Homo sapiens: one gene and its partner. The protein of the gene in region 2 purifies or fractionates together with the protein of the main gene of each other region. This does not show direct contact. Each region holds a gene or a part of one and is shown on either strand. Other genes may lie near its edges.

What was found.
Region 1: the proteins of CST8 (region 2) and RANBP10 purify together in Homo sapiens (affinity purification with mass spectrometry; one large-scale study listed by BioGRID and IntAct). This does not show direct contact.

The regions. Positions count from the first base shown.
Region 1 is NC_000016.10:67,726,561-67,730,060, reverse strand, and holds part of RANBP10 (ran-binding protein 10), read left to right. Parts: intron 1-14; coding exon 15-123; intron 124-232; coding exon 233-381; intron 382-576; coding exon 577-781; intron 782-1,459; coding exon of another isoform or gene 1,460-1,549; coding exon 1,550-1,671; intron 1,672-2,164; coding exon 2,165-2,310; intron 2,311-2,622; coding exon 2,623-2,734; intron 2,735-3,500. UniProt on the Homo sapiens protein: May act as an adapter protein to couple membrane receptors to intracellular signaling pathways.
Region 2 is NC_000020.11:23,489,807-23,493,916, reverse strand, and holds the start of CST8 (cystatin-8 precursor), read right to left. Parts: upstream 2,801-4,110; 5' UTR 2,575-2,800; exon of another isoform or gene 2,508-2,574; intron 2,393-2,507; 5' UTR 2,250-2,392; coding exon 2,019-2,249; intron 960-2,018; coding exon 846-959; intron 1-845. UniProt on the Homo sapiens protein: Performs a specialized role during sperm development and maturation.

The sequences.
Region 1 (3,500 bases), on a different chromosome or scaffold from region 2:
CTTGCACCCTGCAGAGATCCAGAAGCTGGTGCTGGAGGGCCGTGTGGGCGAGGCCATCGAGACCACCCAGCGCTTCTACCCAGGGCTGCTGGAGCACAACCCCAACCTCCTCTTCATGCTCAAGTAAGTCTTGGGCACCCCCAGCTCCCCCAGAGTCCAGCCCCTCTCAGCTGGTGGTGGGAACGTCAACCTGGACCACAACCAGAGCATTATTGCTCCGCTCCCTCCACAGGTGCCGGCAGTTTGTGGAGATGGTGAATGGGACGGACAGTGAGGTCCGAAGTTTGAGCTCCCGAAGCCCCAAGTCCCAGGACAGCTACCCTGGCTCCCCCAGCCTCAGTCCCCGACATGGCCCCAGTAGTTCCCACATGCACAACACAGGTCAGCCACTCTCCAGAGGGCTCTGGGAAGAACTGGTGTGGAGGAGAGAGGCCACTCCACATACCCTTTCCTGGGCTGGGCTCAGGGCTCACTGCTGGATTTGGGAGAAGGGAAATGGGACCACTGTGGTTGTTCTTGGGGCTTCATTTCATGGGAAGCTGCCCCTCCTCTTCTGACTGTCACCCTGGCTTCTAGGAGCAGACAGTCCCAGCTGTAGCAATGGCGTCGCGTCCACCAAGAGCAAACAGAACCACAGTAAATACCCTGCACCCAGCTCCTCATCCTCGTCCTCCTCCTCCTCCTCGTCCTCTTCCCCATCCTCCGTCAATTACTCCGAGTCCAACTCAACAGACTCCACCAAGTCCCAGCACCACAGCAGTACCAGTAACCAGGAGACCAGGTGCCTGCCTTGCTCTGCTTCCTCCTCTGCCTTCTGCCTTATGCCAGCTGGGCCCATTGCAGTCTGTCCTTTGAGCGCCCTGCCCTTCACCCCCAGCCTCCATCTCAGGTCTGTGCCTGGAGTCCTAATTTTTGGCCCACCGGGCCAGACATCAGCTCTGGCTTCTGGCCCTCCCCACGATTTAGCTGCACTTTCTTTGGCCTTGGCTTTCTCCAGAGGCTCCAATGATGCCAGGCTGAGGATGTGGTCTCCTCCAAAGAGGCCGGGCCTGTGAGAACCCTCAGGGTCCATCATGAGGGAGCTTTCCCTGGCTCTGGCTTGTAGACAGCCAGGTTGGGCAGGCAGGGGAAGCTAAGCCGCAGGCTAGAGCTCTAGGTGGCTCTCAGCATCCCCAGGTACACCTCAAGGCTGACCTGAGTTTGGCTTCCAACCAAGGCCACAGAGCTGCCCATGGGGGCCATGGGGCCCAGTCATTAGGTTGGGGGATATGTAGAAGAGGTGTGTGAACTCAGAGGAGGGCCAGGGAGGGGAGAATCACAGAGGCAGCACTGGGGCAAGGGTGGGAATCAGGTGACAGGCCTCTGAGGATAGCTGGTGTCACAGTAGGGGCCAAGTGCTGAAGACTTGGAAGCCTGAGCTGTCCTTTCATGTTCCTGGGGGTCCTCGGTTCACCCACAGCAACCCATGGCTACAGCTTGAAAGGAGGCCCAACCAGGCTGCTCCAACCACACCCCCTGGGCCAACTCCCACCTCAACCCCTCCCCACAGCGACAGTGAGATGGAGATGGAGGCAGAGCACTACCCCAACGGTGTGCTAGGAAGCATGTCCACACGCATTGTTAATGGTGCCTACAAGCATGAGGACCTGCAGACGGATGAGTCCAGCATGGGTGAGAGCCACGGCCCGGTGTGCTATTCTTTGAGGGCAGTGTGCAGTCTGGGTGCCCTCTTCCCCTGGGAGGGGCTGGGGTAGGCAGGCTTTGGCATCTTGAGAAGCTTCAGCCAGACCTGGTCCACAGCCTCCTTAGCCGATTGTGAATGGGTCCTTGAGGTGGCTCCAAATGTACGAAGGCCCTGGCCTGTGCCAAGACCACCTATGTTTGAGGCTGGAGGGTGTTCGAGAGCATGGGCACCCTAATGAGCACCCTGCGTCTGTGCAGGCTGGGAAGAGGGACAACTTCCAAGTCCTCCCTAAATCCTAGACTGTGCGCCAGGTGAATGAAGAGAAGAACGCCTTGACTGTAGCTGCCTCACCTGTTCCTCCCAGCCCTGCCTGCCTCTGGCAGAAGCTGCAGCCCACCCGGGGTCCTTCCTGCCCCACCCTAGTCCTGCCCTTCCCTCTTCACCCCTCCTAACACGTTCTCCACTGGGTTCTGGATGCAGATGACAGGCATCCTCGGCGGCAGCTCTGCGGGGGCAACCAGGCTGCCACAGAAAGGATCATTCTGTTTGGCCGCGAGTTGCAGGCATTGAGTGAGCAGTTGGGCCGGGAGTACGGCAAGAATTTGGCCCACACAGAGATGCTGCAGGTACAGGATGAGCCGGGCCTCATGCAGAGCAGGCCCCATTTGGTGTTGGGGGCAGGGTGGCTCTGGGAGAGTCCAGGGGGCAGCAGGAAAGAGTGGGCTCCAGCCAGGTCTGCAGAGGGAAGTGGGGCATCTGGGCCCACTGGACATGTGCCCTCCACACCTAGGCTCTGGGGAGAGTACAGCCCTGCCCGACCCTACACCCCACATTCCAGGCTGGGCATCATGCAGGGCCCTGTCTCCCTCTGGAGCCACGGGTAGCAGGGTGAGCTATGGTGTGTGCCACAGTCCTCTCAAGAATGCCCTGTCCTGTAGGATGCCTTCAGCCTGCTGGCATACTCAGACCCCTGGAGCTGCCCAGTTGGCCAGCAGCTTGACCCCATCCAGAGGGAACCTGTGTGTGCTGCCCTCAACAGCGCCATTTTAGGTGAGTGAATCTATTTATTATTATTATTAGAGACAGAGTCTGCTCTGTAGCCCAAGCTGGAGTGCAGTGGCACAATCTTGGCTCACAGCAATCTCCACCTCTGCCTCCTGGGTTTAAGCAATTTTCGTGCCTCAGCCTCCTGAGTAGCTGGGACTAAGGTGCGTGCCACCACGCCTGGCTAGTTGTTGTATTTTTAGTAGAGACGGGTTTTGCCATGTTGGCCAGGTTGGTCTCGAACTCCTGGCCTCAGGTGATCTGCCCGCCTTAGCCTCCCAAAGTGCTGGGATTACAGGTGTGAGCCACCATGCCTGGCCTAGGTGAGTGGATCTAACAAAAACAGAAGCTAGCCCATAGCTACCTGGGTGGTTCCCAACCCCCACCCCAATTGGCCCCAGAAAGAGCTGATGTTTATCCACACTGGGGCAGCAAGCTCTGTACAGGCCCTCTCTGGTGACTCATAGGACTCCTGGGCTCCCATGGTTGAACCTAAACCTTGACCTCTGTCTGCCCAGCTGAGTTCATGATGGGTCCTAGGCCATGGCAGTAGGCCCAGGCCAGCCCAGCGCTCTACATGGGGCTAAGGTCCTCAGGTTCCTGGCATGACTTCAGGGCCATGGCCTGGTGGCTGGGACACACTTACACAGAGGTACTGAACACTCTGTTCCAAGAGAATCTGTCCACTGCCCCCTCCTTCCACCCCCAAGGGAACTTTGACCTGGGCCCAAGCCCTGGGCAGGCCAGTGACCAGGCCTTGTCTTTCCTCCAC
Region 2 (4,110 bases):
ATTCTTAGATCCCATTTCCTGAATTGGAAACTCTGCCGGTGGAACCCGGTCATCAGGGTTTGTCAATACCTCCAAGTGATTGTGATGCCTGCTCACATTGGAGAACCACCAATGTAAAGACAGGGACAGTGATGCACCTGTTGGGCAAACCTGCAGAATGCTCAGGCCTTCATCTGTCTGGGACCAAGTACTGGCCTATGAGCTGCTCTGAGATAAAAAATACAGGCTTGAAGCCAAAAGCCCCTGGGCCAAGTCCTCCTTTTGTTGGGAGTCTGTGGGTTTGCCCCAACCTTCCTGGAAACCTGGACTGACCCCAGCAAAAATCAACTGTAAACCCAGGAGGGTGGGGCCACCCTCTGGCTTAGTCATTGCTTAATCTCCAGCACCCAGAATAGACCTGGTGCAAAGCACGTAGCACCTGGTGCTCAGTAATTTTCTATGAGTGGATGAGTGAATGAATGAAGTTCCTTTTGTGTCTGTATGGGGATGAGTGACCATGGGCCCAGCAATAGTGGGTGGCTTGTCTGGACCCAAGAGGACAGGCTTTTGGTGATTATGTGTTGTCCAGTGTGCCTGCATCAAAAGGCCAGAAGTCAATGGAGCCCTTGAGATAAGAGTGGTCTTGACAACATCCTTTCTGCAGGATGAAGGATGAGAAAGAAGCTCAGAGGGTTCCACCACGTTCCGTGGCCCTGGATCTTCTGCTATAAAGGCCACAGGGTTGGCTATCTGGGGCTAAACACTGGGAGCCACCCAGACCTCAAAGAGAAGGTCTGCGTGCCTCAGCTTTCTCTCTTGGGTTCAGAGCTGCCTAGGCCGTCACAGATGAGTGGTTCATCACCTACCCTTTTCAGCTTGGAGTTTTCTTGAATGGCGCAGATTTCATTAGTGCTTAAAGGCTTTCTGCAATCGCTGCGGGCAATTTCTACATCAATAAGGTATTCCAGAAGATTTGTGACCTGTTGGTTAGCAATTATGCAATTTTATTCAAAAGAGTTGTACTTTTTTAAAGTTTTGACAAAAAAAAAAAATTACTCTTACTCTCGTCCTTTCCTCTTTCCTTCCTCCCTCACCCCCAGACAGAGCTTTAGCGGAAGGCTAAGATGCCCACTGCCTGGAGCCCTGTGTACAACAAGATCAGTCAGGACTCCATAGGCTCCTGGAGCTGGACACTTGAGTAAAGACTCCTCTCCAGTTTGTCACCTCCTTGAAAGCAAGGCCTTCTCATTCCATTTCCTGTCCCCAAGCCCAGGGCATGCTGCATGCTCAGTGAGGACTGAGAGGTGAAAGGTGGGCTCTTCAGAACCATCAGCTCTCCTGGGCCTGAGATGCTCAGGTTCACACAGGCCTGACCAGGGGACAGCCCCCTCAGCCACATTAGGCCCCAGTCCCTCAGATTCCTGTGAAACCTCCCATCCTCTGGGGTTTCCCCACCCAAAGCCCCTCCCACCAGCTCAGCACACAGTCCATGAGGACCCATGCAGGCATGAGTTTGCCTGTCTTGTTCTCTGCTGAGTCTTTAGTGAGTAGAACAGCAGTAGGTTTATAGCAGGACATTAGTATTTGTTGAACTCATTAGTGACTGAATGCAATCAAGGCTACTTGTGATGTCCATTTAAATCTGTTTTCATCTGGCATTAAAGGATTACAGCAGGAGATGAAGGAGTGTCTGCTAGTTGGGTCCAGGTTCACCTGGACTCACCTTTATCAGATCTTTTCTCATGGCTAGCATTCTATCTGTCTCCCAACCTTAGCAAATACATGAACATTTGATTTGCAGTTTGGGGTTTAAATGAGTTAATCTATGCGAAGGACTTAGAACAAAAGCGCAAGCGTTTGTAGAAAGTGCTCTGTGTGTTCACTGCCTTATTGATGCTGTGGAAGTGTCTAGGCTCTTAAGCATTCACATATTTAGGATTTTTGCATAGTGATATTTTTCTTATATGCCCACTCTTTCAGTCTGGCTTCAACTGTGCCACCATATGCAAATGTCCACCTATATGGAAAGACACCTTTACCTGAAGCTGGGCTTGCAGTGTCTTGACCACCAGGAAGACATACTTGTCCTCGCTCTCTTTGTTGTATTCTTGCATGGCAAACCACAGACACTGCTTCACGTTGGCATTTGAGGCATTGACGGGTTTTAATTTCCTCAGCACCCCTGTCTCATTCTTTTTTGGGTCTTTCCTGGCCACCAGGGCCAGGGGAATGGTGAGGAGGATCAGGGAGAGCCACCGGCACCTGGGCATGGTCCCTTGGGCAAGAGGCAAAGTCGACTCTCCTCCTCGTCGTCTCAGGGCTGGAGCTGTGGGCAGGATGGGGTGGCCGCAGCTGCTGCTGTGGGTTCAAGAATCTTCGAGCCACACACTGCCTCCTGTTAGCGTCAGCCCAGCTGGATTCAAGACAGGCCATTAGGGTCACTCTTTGGGGTTTGTCCTCTCTTTCTCCATGGAAACCCACCCAGGAATGCCAGTTAAGGAGTCTCTCTACCAGCCTCCCCTCCTTACCCTGAGAGCAATCTGTGTGTCTAGGGAGAGTTCCTCTCCCCTTCGGCCCCAGTGTGTCTATGCCTACCCCTGTGAGCGTCACTCTTGTTATCTGCTTCTCAGTCCTGTATGATGTGATCATGAAAACTGTGGCTGCCCCAGAGGCCTTGTGGCCTCAGCCCTTGGTGGACTTTCAGCCTGCTGTGCCTGCAGCTCCTTCTTACTCCCTGTGGAGCTGGGAGCTGACCTGACCAGTGGTTCTCCTAGGTCTTCAGCACTCTTAGTTCATGCCTGTGGCCCAGTCAAGGGTCTCTGTGGGTCCTGGTCTGCGGTCTCTCTTGCCCCTCTGAGTCCACGCCCTGCAGGGAGGTTACGCTTTGTGATGTAATTCAGCACCTGTGTCTTGTCCCAGTGAGGACATCTCCCACTTGCCAGCCTCCGGCCTTTGGTCTAAACAGCTCTCACAGGGGCACAGAGAGCAAGCAAATGCCTCCTGCTGTGCCCTCAGAGTCAGGGGCCTGCAATGGTTAATACTGAGTGTCAACTTGATTTGATCGAAGGACACCAAGTATTGATCCTGGGTGTGTCTGTGAGGGTGTTTCCAAAAGAGATTAACATTTGAGTCAGTGGGCTGGGGAAGGCAGATCCACCTTTAATCTGGTGGGCACAATCTAATCAGCTGCCAGCGAATATAAAGCAGGCAGAAAAACGTGAAAAGGAGAGATGGTCCTAGCCTCCTAGTCTACATCTGTCTCCCATGCTAGATGCCTCCTGCCCTCGAACATCAGACTCCAAGTTCTTCAGTTTTGGGACTCTCAGACTGGCTCCCCTTGCTCCTCAGTTTGGCAGACAGCCTGTTGTGGGCCCTTGTGATCATGTAAGTTAATACTTAATAAACTCCCTTTTATATACATATTATTTATATATATAATTTATGTATATTTTATATATATATAATTTATATGTATATTTTATATATATACAATTTATATATATATTTTATATATATAATTTATATATAATTTTTATATATAAATTATATATATTTTATATATAATTTATATATATAAATTATATATATTTTATATATAATTTATATATATAAATTATATATATTTTATATATATAAATTATATATATTTTATATATATATAATTAATATATATATAATTTATATATATATTATATATATAATTAATATATATATAATTTATATATATATTATATATAATTAATATATATATAATTTATATATATATTATATATAATTAATATATATATAATTTATATATATATTATATATATAATTAATATATATATAATTTATATATATATTATATATATAATTAATATATATATAATTTATATATATATTTTATATATATATAAAGGGGAGTTTATTAAGTATTAACTTTATATATATACACAACCATATATATCCTATTAGTTCTGTCCCTTTAAAAGAACCCTGACTAATACAGGGCCCCTCTGGCATCTTCTGCCCACCTGTGCCAATGACTCTGGCTTCCTGAATGCCTGGCCTCTGAACTCCCTTGGCTTGGGCCAACAGTAACCCCCTGCCCTGTCCTGCCAGGGTAAGGGTCACGTGGCCCACTCTGATGCC